Homo sapiens: one gene and its partners. The protein of the gene in region 4 purifies or fractionates together with the protein of the main gene of each other region. This does not show direct contact. Each region holds a gene or a part of one and is shown on either strand. Other genes may lie near its edges.

What was found.
Region 1: the proteins of C2CD4B (region 4) and PPP1R15B purify together in Homo sapiens (affinity purification with mass spectrometry; one large-scale study listed by BioGRID and IntAct). This does not show direct contact.
Region 2: the proteins of C2CD4B (region 4) and FAT3 purify together in Homo sapiens (affinity purification with mass spectrometry; one large-scale study listed by BioGRID and IntAct). This does not show direct contact.
Region 3: the proteins of C2CD4B (region 4) and KIAA0232 purify together in Homo sapiens (affinity purification with mass spectrometry; one large-scale study listed by BioGRID and IntAct). This does not show direct contact.

What each region holds. Positions count from the first base shown.
Region 1 is NC_000001.11:204,402,881-204,405,849, forward strand, and holds the end of PPP1R15B (protein phosphatase 1 regulatory subunit 15B), read right to left. Parts: 3' UTR 501-2,969; downstream 1-500. UniProt on the Homo sapiens protein: Maintains low levels of EIF2S1 phosphorylation in unstressed cells by promoting its dephosphorylation by PP1.
Region 2 is NC_000011.10:92,346,818-92,350,317, reverse strand, and holds part of FAT3 (protocadherin Fat 3 isoform 1 precursor), read right to left. Parts: intron 1-3,500.
Region 3 is NC_000004.12:6,855,727-6,859,226, reverse strand, and holds part of KIAA0232 (uncharacterized protein KIAA0232), read right to left. Parts: intron 3,427-3,500; exon of another isoform or gene 3,371-3,426; coding exon of another isoform or gene 3,329-3,370; intron 2,064-3,328; coding exon 1,997-2,063; intron 803-1,996; coding exon 721-802; intron 1-720.
Region 4 is NC_000015.10:62,163,035-62,166,717, forward strand, and holds C2CD4B (C2 calcium-dependent domain-containing protein 4B), read right to left. Parts: upstream 2,252-3,683; 5' UTR 2,161-2,251; intron 1,991-2,160; 5' UTR 1,951-1,990; coding exon 856-1,950; 3' UTR 501-855; downstream 1-500.

The DNA.
Region 1 (2,969 bases), on a different chromosome or scaffold from region 4:
GGCCAACATGATGAAACCCCATCTCTACTAAAAATACAAAATTTAGCCGGGCATGGTGGCAGGTGCCTGTGATCCCAGCTACTCGGGAGGCTGAGGCAGGAGAATCGCTTGAAACCGGAAGGTGGAGGTTGCAGTGAGCTGAGATCGTGCCACTTCAATGCAGCCTGGGTGACAGAGGCTCCGTCTCAAAAAATAATAATAATAATAATGCACAAAACAGAGATTTCCCTGCTACTTAAGCACTAGGCTAAGCCCAGCATCTGAATGTTATTGCTTCTGTGAATACCCAGTTTAATTTTCTTTGCAGCAAAACTGAAAAGCTAGGGCCAATTTCAGAATCAAATCTTCAGTTTCTTAGAAGGGCCTCTCATAATACTGCAAGAACCAAGTTCTTCTATTACTAAAATGTTGTTTGCAATTATACTAATCCTGCTTAGTAATTCCAAAACCATTGTAAAATACTATGATACATATAATATAAAGTTGAACCAAAATATCACTTAACATTTAATAATTGCAAATATATTTATTACAATTTACAGATTAGTTATGTTATATACACAAATATAATTTTAACTATAAAATCCCAACTAGTTACATTTAAATTATTGATCTGTAGAAGCCAATTTAGAGTCTTCTAGTCCCCTAACTTTACCTTCCTTAAATTATACAAAAATAAAATCTGATAGTTTTGATTTCAAGTTAAAGATGAAGAAGTGTTACATTTCATCACTCAGAAATGGAACTTTTACCTGTCTGTACAAAGCCTTTTACATGCTACATTGACACTTAAAGCACCATTAACAAGACTTTAAATGTATAAAATGTTTAATTAAAACCTCCAAAGATTTTCTCTTTAAGATTACGGGGGTTTAACTTTGTTCTAACTAGAATTGGGATGAAACAAGAATTTTGCTTTTTTCTCCTTCAGTCCAACTTTAAAATAGTCCTTTCTGTCCTTCTTATCACCTTCTGATCACTTCTTCCAAGGAGGCTAGTATATGGAAGAACTCTTAATCAAGCTTTCACTCATTTGGTAGTGAGGTTAGAATCCCATGGGGAACAATTTTCCAAAATCCAATGAAAGATGTCTCATTATTTTCAAATACACAGAGGTGCTAGGTTTAAGAAACAGGAAACACAACGTTAAGTCTCGGAAATAAAATGTTTCAGCCTGGTTTTAAAAGAATGCCTGTATGTTGTCAAAAGGCTTTTTTCAAGGCAAATGACGCCTGCTTTCCAACCGACATTGCTGTTGCTTGAAACTAGCCTGTTTTCATGTTATTAGACCATCCTGTAAATGTGCTCCCTATGATTACCTAAAGTGGAGGTGCACAAAACACACAGAATCCCAGCACTTTGAGAGGCCGAGGCGGGCGGATCACGAGGTCAGCAGTTCAAGACCAGTCTGGCCAACATAGCGAAACCCCGTCTCTACTAAAAAGACACAAAAAATTAGCCGGGCGTGGTGGTGTGTGCCTGTAATCCCAGCTACTCGGGAGGCTGAGGCAGGAGAATCGCGTGAACCCAGGAGGCGGAGGTTGCAGTGAGCCGAGATCGCGCCACTGCACTCCAAGCTGGGGGACCGAACGAGACTCTGTCTCAAAAAAAAAAGAAAAAAACAAAAAACACACAGAATAAGGGCTCTGCAAAAATTTGACCAGCTTTTATAGTGTTGCATTCTCAATGTGTTTAATTATGAATATATAAACAGTGGAGGCAGTTCTTAGAACTGGATAGAAATAAAATAATGACCAGGTAGATTGTAAACTGAGGTAGTAACCCTGTAAGCACTTCTGATGAAAAATTCATCCCCACACTTAAATAAGTTCAAAACTAAGAGGTCACCTATTCTACTTATGTTTTCCATTACCTGTGACAGGAAGCACACGGAATGAAAGCAGACCACGGAAGGGTTAACAACCCCTCAACCTAACTTATGTGTACCTTGTAAAGCTAAACAAATAAACCAAACACAAACAGTCAATGCAAAGACTTCAATTCAAAGTAACCTTTGGGCTAAATATATTAAAACTTTCCAGTCATTAATCTATACTTCTATCCTTTCCTGAAAGTAAAGGCCTTGCCATTACTTCTCTCATTATTAAATAGTAGGACACAATAAACCTGGATATTGACTGAAGTTTATATTTTACATTTCAAACGTGAAAATTCAGAACTGCCCATTTCCAATTTTACAGTGGGATCCTGACAGGTTTTAAAAGTGACAGTGCTGAGGCATGATATTCATTAACACTGGTTTTCTGTTGAGAACATATACACCAAAACCAAATTGCTCTGAGATGTCTCCTATTTTCTTTCTAGGAAATTTCTAGGCTTTTAAGTTTAAAAAATAAATGATTATGATGTAATTATTACTTTCCAGAGTGTTTTGCAATAACTTCAACCTGTTAAGAGATACAAAGAACTATATTAAACTGGGAACTACAATAACGTACACAGAACCCTCTTCAAAGAAATTAAATATATTAGATGTTAAAATGTGGTAGAAAGATGCAGCTTTCCCAAAGTAGTAAAGTACTGCACATATGGGTTTTGTGGCAGTCCTTGGAAATATCCTAGGTAGAACTTAATGTAGAAATAAAAAGGCTACCACATATTTTCAATCCAAGTCATTTTTACAAGAAAAAAAAAAGTGACACAAAATAATGCACTTTAAGTTGGTAGCATACACAAGGTTATTTTTTAGCCTAACATAGACAGGCCAAATCATTGAAATAAAAAAAATATAGAAAAACATAAAAGCCCATTAACTTCTGAATTTTGGGAAAGAAACAAGAAAGAGCCCAAAGTTTTCAGATAGGCACACATAATTTAGATTAGAAATGAAAATGGGCTTTAAGCCCTATAAATATTGTTTTCCAAGAAAATAAGTTTTGAAAGTGCAAAATGACAACTCAAAAAGGTCCCCTTTCCACCTCATGCAGGCAAAGGACATTTAAAAGCAC
Region 2 (3,500 bases), on a different chromosome or scaffold from region 4:
TGTATGGTTTATAAAACCCTTTCATATCCAAGGTTAGCAAGGCACATATTATTATAACCTTTTTGTTAATGATAATATAAAACCTCATTTTCCTATCTCGACTTTATTAGTTAAGTCTAAATAGACTTAACTTTTTCTTGTTGAATACCTCCTTTCTCCCCTCTCCTTGATTAATTTTACTGGCTAAAATAGGAAAAAGTTTTTACCTTTTAACCCACATAGTCATGAAACTGTGGAAACTGTCTAAATTTAATAGTCATTGATAGAGTCTAGCAGACTCTAGATTAGAGCTCAGGCTCTCTCCATACCCCACAAGGCTTTTCTTTTTTTTTTTTTTTCAGCTCCACCTTACAGGAGACTCTCCTGAAGTGAAACCCTGAGCATGCAAATGCTGGTTCTGCCTGGGAATGTAAGATATCTTGCTGCTATCATTTGCTGAAGTATCCCGTAGAAAACATGGAGTTACAGATAGAAAAAGTCAAGTTTAATTTAGGGACTTTACAGGCATTAATAGACAGCAAAAATGAAAAGCTGAAAAAGGGAGTAAGCGTCTATAAAGGAAGTTAATTTCACATGCAGTTCTTTAGAGACATTGCATATGCTAAGTAAGTGGAACAGGCAGCCTGTGGACAGCAGCTCTGGTAACTAGGGCAGGGACCAAGTCAGATGGCCGCTGGTGACCCTGCTCAGTAAGTTCCTAGAAAGACATCACTGGGCTGCTGGTCATTTCAAAGGAAACTTTATTAAGAAAATGATACATTTGGGGTTTTCTGGATGCAGTAGGTTCAAATGTCCTACCTAGCAGAGTGGCGAAGCCCACAGTGTGATTGGGGTGTCTACTTTGTAGAGCACAGTCAACTGAAATATGGGAGCAAAAGAACCTCTCTGTAGTGATCACAGAAGTACACTAGCAGAAGCTTTAATAGTATTTTGTATGCCTCAGGAGTCTCTATTTCATCATCTCAAAAGGCTCCAAAGCAGTGGAGACATTTTTAGGCTCACTGTGGACATGTGAACACGGTAAAGTAAGCGAGTCTCTCGTAAGGGAATGTGAAGGTTAGGTTACACTCTCTCAAGGTGAAATACTGGGATCACTCCCAGAATGCTCCAGAGAAATACAAATAAAGTTTCTGCCTTATTTCCCACTCACTATCCTGTGCTGAGAAGACTTCCTGTAACAGTAATTTTGCCGATCCTTAGCCCAAGGAGTCTAGACTCCATGGTCATCAGAGAGGAAAACTTCCCCCATGAAAAATACAGTTCAACTGAACTTTTCTGAGTCTGCCCCCTCATTCACACTTTGAACTTCTACTTAAGGAAACCTGATGGGAAGTACATCACTCTATTCCCAGCATCCAGTACAGCACCCACCACACAGGAAGCAAACAACACTGGTTTGTTGAACAGAACCCTAAGTACTAATGTAACCAGAGGCCCAGATGCCTTTAATATGCTCCGTTTCCTATTCCCCAACAAAAAGCACATCTTACTTCAGGAAACTGAATCAAGAAATTATACAGGTTCAAAGGAGCCTTAAAGATCATCTGTTCCAATCTCCTGAGTTTACAGATGAAGAAACCAGGGTCCATAAAATGAAGAGATTCCCCTAATGCCAGGACTCAAGTTTCCCAGGTTCAGAGCTAATACCAAACTGAAACACGCTTCAATTGAATTAGTTTTCATTAAGTTACATTAAAATTTTAGAGCTGTGGTTTATCATTATTTTGGAGTCATCTTCCTTTTCTGACACCATATTACTCTCCCTGGTGTTATTTCTTCCTCTAAGTAGTTAACTGTTTATAAATAAACATTAAAGTGCCCTAAGGGGATAGTTACTTTTTACAAATCTTTCTGTGAATCTTTCAAGGCAAAGAATGCTATCATAATATGAAAATGTATCATTCAATTTAACTATTCAAAAATTGGTGCTTTTGCATAGTGAGTTTTTCTTTCAGCAAGATACATTGCTGGAATTGTTTTCTTAAAAACCGGAATCGGTGGTCTTAAATGCAAATAGAAAATATTTCAAAACAAGCATAAATGGAGTAGTATTATCACATACTGAAATTCAGACCTACCACCAAAAAACTGAGCAGGACTAAGTTTGTCAAATTCAGTTGTTGAAAACAAAATATCTTTTAAGGCTTTTGTATCTTTATTGTGGCAAAGGAAAAAAAAAAAGCCCTATCTGGCACAAATTATTTTAAAAAGCCTTGCAGTTTTCCCACTGATTAGGAAATAAATGAATGCTAGAAGCTAGGAATGTTGTAAAATTTTGCAAAGCAAATAATAGAATTGAATTTTGTCTTCTTTTCTTTTTAGCATGCCAAGACAACTGTTGAAGTTTTTTTTAAAAATAATATTGCCCTTTCCACATTGAAGCCAAGCTATTTGTGAAGCCAATATGATACAGTATTTTAGATGCTCTGCACATTGATTTATTCTACTGCTTCTAGATTATTTTAAAGAAAGCACTTAGTTCCCAACCTCAGAGCCTATTTTCTACGACTTACTAACATAATCAATAATTTTTGATATAATCTCCAAAGAGATCATCAAGCCATCAATCTTTGAGACATTTATTTTTCAGAGGCATTCCTGGTGTGCCTCCCCATCCTGCCCTTCTGCTCTGTTAGGATGGATCTTACTGTGGGACTCAGAAGGGCATGCAGATTTTTCTTTCCATGGATGAATAAATACCAGAGACCTTGGGGGCAGGGAACAGCAATCACAGAGACTACCTCTCTGGGACAGCCTTGGCTCTGTAGGGTACCTATGCTTGCTTTGGTAACCTGATAAAGCTGTTTTCTGCCAACATTAATCTGGTCTGCTTAAATTGGTGAGACTTCTGAACACTACCAAAGGTATTTTAAAAATATATTTCATTTTCATTCCCTCTCTTCCTATCTTTTCTATTTTGAGGGGATTTTGTTAGCCAAATCGGGAGGGTACTCAAGAAATTTGCTATGTTAGGCTGTAAAGCAAAGAACAAAGTCAATATAGAGTCCCCTTGACAGGAGTCCTTGAGGAAGGTGACCCGTGTTCAAACTGCAAATGGAAGATCAGTCTCTGCTCTGGTGTATGCAGTGCCAGAGCCAATGCCAACACAAAGGCAGAGCATGCAATGGTTACAGAACATGCACCTTGGCACTTGACTGCCTGCATTTGAATCCTATCTATGCCATTTACTAGCTTTACAACCCCAGGCAAGCTATTGAACCTCTCTGCACCTCAGTTTATTCTTCTATAAAATGAGAACAATAATGCCTACCGAATAGGATTTGAGTTAATAAATGGAAAATACTTAAAACACTTCATGGCACATTGTATATAATTGTTAGCTATTATCATTAATAAAGGCAGATTTTAGAGAAGACAAAATCTGGGAATCACAAGACAGGGAGTAAAATTTACAACCTACTCTACGTTTTATTTTCCAGTAGAAAAAAACACCCATCAAAGGTAAAGGAAAGAATGTCCTTTCTTTACTAAAAGCAAAG
Region 3 (3,500 bases), on a different chromosome or scaffold from region 4:
CAGGTTTGGCAGGTCAAGGATTGCCTATGTTCCCTCTGCAGTAAACAGTGGGAACTCAGTGTTCTTGCTTGTGAACATGGATAATCATTTCTTTTCTTTCTTGTTTTTTTTTTTTTTTTTTTTTTTAATAAGACAGAGTCTCGCTCTGTCGTCCAGGCTGGAGTGCAATGGCACAGTCTCAGCTCACTGCAACCTCTGCCTCCCGGGTTCCAGAAATTCTCCTGCCTCGGTCTCCTGAGTAGCTGGGATTACAGGCATGTACCACCATGCTCAACTAATATTTGAGACTGGGTTTCACCATGTTGACCAGGCTGGTCTCAAACTCCTGACCTCAGGTGATCCACCTGCCTTGGCTTCCCAAAGTGCTGGGATTACTGACATGAGCCACTGTGCCCGGCTGATAATCCTAATTTCTCACAGCTGTCTCAAAGGGCTGTTGTGAATATTAAAGGTAATAGTACATACATAGACTTAGCAAATAATAACCTTCTATGTTTCACTCATTTGTTCCACAAATATTGAATATGAACACCAAGGACAGAACCATCTTGTTTCACCTTTGAATTCTCAGTGTCAAGCATATAAGCGCTCGATAAATGTTTCTTACATTATATATAATGAAACTAAACAAGATGACAAACAGAAAACGGAAACCATGTAGCAGTTATTCATCTGATTTTAACAAATGCACACTTTATTACCGAATACAATCTTACATACATTTCCACTTGATCCTTTGCTGGAGGGGATAATTCTGCCTCTGGAGAGGGAGACCCCTCTAACTTTTTGTGAATCTTCTCTTCTGTTATGAAACAAAAATTAAGAAAGATTTGTCTTATATCTAGTTAATAAATGCTAATGTATTTCAAAGTTTCTCAACTAATTTTAACAAGAAATAGAGACTTTGGTGCTTAAAAGGCAAACTCAATACCGATCTTTTTAATAAAAATCTATTTTTTCAGTGTGCCAGAGGGAATTCTCCGATTAAACCACATTAGCATTAGGCCAAGAGGTGAGAGTTGTTCATCTCGTCACTGATACAGTGCTCTAGAGGCACTTAATTAAGAGACTGAAGTCCCCTGTGTACTTATTAATTAGACCAGAAGGACAGAACATCTGTTTAGATTCCAAAACTATTTTCTCACAAAATTCTACACTCATAGACTTTACATTGACTCATCTTGACCAAAACTAATCTGTAAAGAATATTCTTTATTACAATTTGCTCTATTACTTAACATGTAGGTGAGCAAGGGCTATTTCAACTGAAACAGGAAAAAGGGCTATCCCTTAGTTTAGCCTAGGATACTGCCTTAGGTTACAAATCAACTGTGCCCTTAAGAGGCAGGCTCAAGGCTTGGTGGGCAGCAAAATGACCATAAAGAGGGCAAGGAAACAAGGATCCTCACCCTTAATATGAAGGTCTCGTTCTTAGGGATTGCAAACAAGTTAGAAAAAGTATGAGGAGGATTCATATATCGAAATAACTAAATAAGCTTGCCAAGTCTGTGTTTTCAAAAAAGCTGAGTCAAAACAGAAGTCCCTTCCAAACCTGAAGTAATTCATGTCTTAACATCTTAATTTAATGTCGTAATTTAGCAGTCTTAACATCAACAGGCAGATATTAACAGAGGGGCAAGGATGGGGAAAGGAAAGAGACAATATTGTTCCTGATCTCTGAGCTTCAACTTGAAGCCAACAACAATTAAAAAAACCCAAAAAACAGAAAACCATGAAGTGTTTCCTATCTCTGAGGGCACCTGTGGACTAAGTCCCTCCCTTGGTTGCAGGAATCTCTATGAGTGACTGCTGGGTCTGACACAGAAGCCACTAACAGAGCTGCAGATGGAGCATGAGGCTGGCCTAGTGACACACACTGGACACAAAGACTTTGTTCTGGTTGTTTTCTTTTCTGATCAATTCTAAGATTTTCCCCAATCCAGATTCCTCAGGGATGTAATCCTGGCATGTGTGCGCACAGTGCTTTTGACCTCACCTTGCTTACTCTGAAGGTCTTTCAGTCTGGAGCAGAGCTCCTCCACTAAAGTCTCGATACCAGAGCTCTGCATGACAACAAAAAGACACATTAGGTTACAGCCAGGTATGTACAAATCAGGTATTTGTATACTTTTGTTTTAATACACAGGTTTTACAAATCATCCACATTCCAAAATAAATATCTTACCAATATTTACGTGAATACTACAGTTTAAAAATTATAGGTTTGTAGATACAAATTGGTATACATGCTTATTACTAATAAGGCATATTAAATGAAACTTAGTGATAAAATGTGAACATATTCATGTACCTCCCAGAATAGCTTCTGTTTTTCCAAAGGTGTGTCATCTTGCTCATGGGGCAGATTTAAGGGCCTAAATGTCCATCATACGACCAAAAGTCAGTCACCATCAAAAAGAGTATTAAATATTTATGTGAGCGAGATCTTATACCAGACTTAAAACAAAGGAAAATCACAAAACCTCATCTTAGTTCTCTAGGAGCTCACACCCTGAAGAAAACAAGGTGATTTTTTTTTTTTCTGTTTTAAAGAAACATGAACACTCATGATTAAAACAACAGAAGTCCAGAAAATGAAGCCAATATTGCAAATGTGAAAGCTTTGTCTTCTTTTCAGCATCTGGACCAGATTATCGACTTCTATACAAAGCTTGGGAGTTTAAAATTTAAGGAGAGTACATAGAAGAGTCTGGATTTGGGAGGGTAAAAATAAGAGTCAACCTTTAAAGAAAAATGAATGTAGAAAACAGGCACAAGCAAATAATCTTTCATTAGTAGACTTTAACTTTTAAGAGTCTCAATTTCTCACAGGAAGAAAAAAAAATTTTTTTACAGTGGACAAAAAAAGTCAATGTATTTCTCAGAAACTTTAGATTTATTCAGTGACCAAAGTCCTATTTAAACTGGAATCAAGTCCTTATTGGTGGGCATAACCCAAACAGATGCGCGTGATGGAGAGTTCTGCTAAGCCAGTGCCCTCACTAGGCCTTGACGGGCTAAAAATAGAACTTTACCCCATTCACTTAACTCAAAATGACTCAGCACAAATATTATAGATATCCTACATAAGAAATCCCACGGTTACACAGTTTGAGTAGCAAGAAACAGATTACAATGAAAACAGTTAATTGTAAACATCTAGAGTTACATTCTGTCCACGTCATACCACAGGTTTTAATAGGAAGATAGAAAAATAGGCCAGACAAGAGTTGCCCTTTCCTTTAAAAACACTCTTAAAAACGATGGCAGATATTAGTCATAAACACTGTTCAACCACAAACAGTTGCACCAGAAAGCACCTGCTTACCATAATGCTCAAGGTGTGACAAGGACGGCAATTATATTCCATTTCCTTCGGATCGTGAAACCAACACCAGTGTCAGCTGACACACTGCATACTGTTCTGTACAGCAAGCCTATGTCACTAGGTTTCTAAACCTAGGGCTAGTCTCGCAATGCAGAACACTGAACCTCTAGGG
Region 4 (3,683 bases):
GACTTAGGTTTATTTGTTGAATTAACAAATGAAAATCAATTGGATTTTTAAAAACACTCTCTAGAACCCAGTGTTCAAGAAACTGACTACTTACTTTTTAACTCATCTAGGAAATCCTACCGCAAAGCTAATTAGTGTGTAATTAGATACATAGCTAGGTGAGAAAATGCCACAAAAAGTATCATCTTGTTTACAGAGGCAAGAAAGATTTCTAAGATTTCCTAGGTAAGGAAGAGAGAGACCCCAGGAATAGCTATTCCCTAGATAACCCATCTATTGGAAGGTCCTCCACTTCCCTGTTTTCCTCACCAATTTTTGAAAAACTCACTTCCAAAAGAAAACTTTCTACAAAAAAATTTTCTTCCCACCAGGGTATATACATCCTTATAATACAAGTGTCTCACTCTGATGTGTGCGCGTGCGCAAACACAAATTAGGATATTACCTATGCCGCATCAATATGTAAAGCTGTGTATATGAATCGTAACGTTGGGCATGACTCTGAATGAATAACTTGCTTTATTAAAAAAAAACTGTAACATTGATAGAAAACCGGAAGGAATTAAAAACAATGCAGATGGGTGTACTTCCTTTCTCTCCCAGTCCCAAGCCAACCCATTTTTCCTTGGAATGCAAAAATGGTCTGGAAAGAGATATGGGGGTCCTGTGAACAGAACAGGGAGTCATTATCTTTTTCTTCTTTACCAATAGACGATGACAAATGTGGATGGTGAGGAAGTAAAACGTCAATAAAGCAGTATCATAAATAAAAAAATAAATAACGTTTATTCTGTACCACGCGGCTGTCAGTGTCCGGAGTCTCCAGGGCAGAGCGCCCCGGGGAGGGCTGGGCCCTCAGAGCAGCAGGAGGGCGCCCAGGGACAGCTCACCCTGGCCCAGCAGGCGGCCCCGATCCCGGCCGCGACCCTCATCCCGGGCCTTGACGCGAACGGCCAGGCGGCGCACCTCGTCTTCCGAGAGGCCGTCGAAGCAAAAGTCCTGGTCAAAGGAGGCCTTGCGGCTGCGCCCCACCACAGCGCTGCATTGCCAACGCGCAGTGCCCGGCGGCCGCAGGACGAGGCTGAGGCGGCAGCGGACGGCGCGGGGCCCGGGGGCGCCTCCGAACAGGCTCTCCGCGCGGAGCAGCCGGAGGCGGAGACGCCGGGTTCCCGGACAGTACTCAGCAGCCAGGCGCAGGGCGTCGCCGGCGCGGCCCAGAGCCACGGTGCCCTTGGCCTCCAGGCGCTCAGGAAGCGGGGCCCTGGATGACAGCGGGCTCGAGGAGGGGGCCCGGGCCGGGGACTCGGATCCCGCGCGGCGCTCCTCGTCCTCGTTCCCGCTGGAGACGGAGCGGACGCGGGCCAGGCGGCGACTCCTTCCAGCCCGCAGCGCGCGACTCAGCAGCCCGTCGGGGACGCGCAGGAGGCGGCAGCGGCGGGGCCCCGCAGCGAGCGCGTCCTGGGGCAGGCGGGGACCGCCGGGGGCCGCGGGGGTGGCCGGGCCCGGACCTCGCGGGCCGCACAGGGTCCCCAGGGGGGCGTCCGGGCCTCCGCCGCCGCCGCAGCTGTGGGCCCGGGGCCGGGGCGCGGGCGGGCCCCCGAGCAGGAGCGACTCCTTGCGGCGCGTGTGCGGGCTCTCGAGCAGCGCGCAGAAGCCGTAGGTGGTGCGCACACGGGGCAGGTGCGGCAGTGACAGCGCTGCCTGCGAGCGCGGGTCCCAGTCCGTGCGGCCGGCGTCCTCGTCTGCCGCGCGGGGCCACAGGTCGCTTTCAGCGGCGCAGCGCCGGGGCACGGCGGCGGCCCGGATTGGAGACTCGAGCGTGCAAGGGGCCGGCAGCCGCGGCGGGATGCAGAATTCGGGGATGCGATTCGGCGTGAGCACTTTGGCGAAGGCGGGCTTCGGCGCGGAGCTGCCTGCGGCCGAGGAACAGAGTTTCTCGAGGAGCCGCATCCTTGGAGGCTGGGGCTAGGAGTGGCGGGAAGAGGTGCGCCTGCGGGGGAGAGAAGCTGCTGAGTTTGGGCGCCTGGAGCTGCTGCAGCCCCTCGACGCGGCTGGATCCCTCCCCCAGACCCTGTAAACGTCCCCCACGTGTTTAAGACCCCAGACCAGTTCCAGCCTTCCTCTCCCCTGCACCCACAACAAATCAGCCCCGCTTCAGACCTTTCTCTCTTCTTCAGTGTCTCTGGATCTGGTTGCAAGCTCAGTGCCAGTGGCCTCTAGCCCGCTGCCGAGGCGCCACCTTCAGTACTGCGGCCAGGAGAGTGGCGCTCCCCTCTTATACCGTAGGCTGAGTCCCGCCCAGCCGCCAGCGGCCCAACCCGGAGGTGCTGCACAGCCCGCCTTCCCGCCACCCTCTCCCACGACGCCGGGAGGTCTGCATGCACTGGGCGCTCAGGTCTGCGCGAAGCTGTCGCGGGAGCAGGCACCTTGTGGTCAGCTCTGGGACCCGCATTTGCAGTGAGTGCGTGGAGCCCCAGGCAAGGCCTGGGAAAGGTTGCAGGTGAAGAGAGGGCACCCTGTCGTCCTGCCAAGGAAAAATTGGCGGCTGAAAATGTTTCTGGCTTCTTGGAGAAGGTGAGGCTGGACGAGGAAACAGGAAGTTAATTTGGCTAGGAGATAAACCGTCACTCACCCTGCATGTAACCTGGACGTGACCTGCACGTCCTGGGAGCTTCTGTTTTCCTGTCCCCACGCACTCGCAGCGTGCAGACCAATATGGTTTCCAGTTATTTATATACTTATTTACTGTCTGTCTCCCTCTGCTAGACTGTGCTCTTTTTGATAGCATAGGCCCTGGCTCAGTCCATGCCCTAAGTACTGGTGAAGTGGGTAAATTAATCGTTGAGAAAATTTCTGATCGCTTCTTGGTCTTTTGGCTAAGATCAAGTGGAGAAAGCCTCTGAATGGCTGCAGGCTCTGCCTGTCATCTTGATAGTTACAAAACATGGGGCTTCTGGCTCCTGCCCTAAAATAACACTTGACGTTTTTAAAACTACCCCTTTTTTTTTGCTCTAGCACGGAGGTATCCAGTTAGAAAGCACCTTCCCGAAATATAGATTCCTTCTTTCCACCCCCGACCTTCATTTTCTGAGATGTGAAGACTGAAATCCCAGAGGGACCTGAGGAAATTCCAGAAAGGTTAAAAAGAGCCAGTTAATGGCAGAAGCTGGAACTAGCAATTTCCTGTTTCTTTGGCTTTGCATGTGATGCTTCCTGTGATCTGAAATGCCTTTTCTCTGCTTTTTCTTTATATAGGAATTCCTGTTTATTTTCTGTAATTCAGCCCACGCATCGTCCCTTTCAGGTGCCTTCACCCACCCAGCCGCCGCGGAACTCCCCTGCTCCAGTTCCTCAGTCCCTCCTCATTTCCTTCCTACATCTAGGGGCCACCATTGTTGCGGTTCGCATGCTGCTTTGGAATTTTCGGTTTACAGTTTTGTCTCCCCCTAATAGCCTTGTGGGTTTTCAGTGGGCAAGGACTGGGGCAGCTCAACCAGAAGGGGATTTCGGGAGTCTATTATGAATAAATGAAAAATAAAAGTCCTAAGATCAAGAACTGGGATTGCCTCCATCCCGGTTGCCTTATCCAGGCTACAAGCCTGGCTGTCTTATTCGTCTCTACGTAATTCTAGCACCCAGGATACAATGCCAGGCAAATAGTAAGGGCTTAGTAAATATTTGAT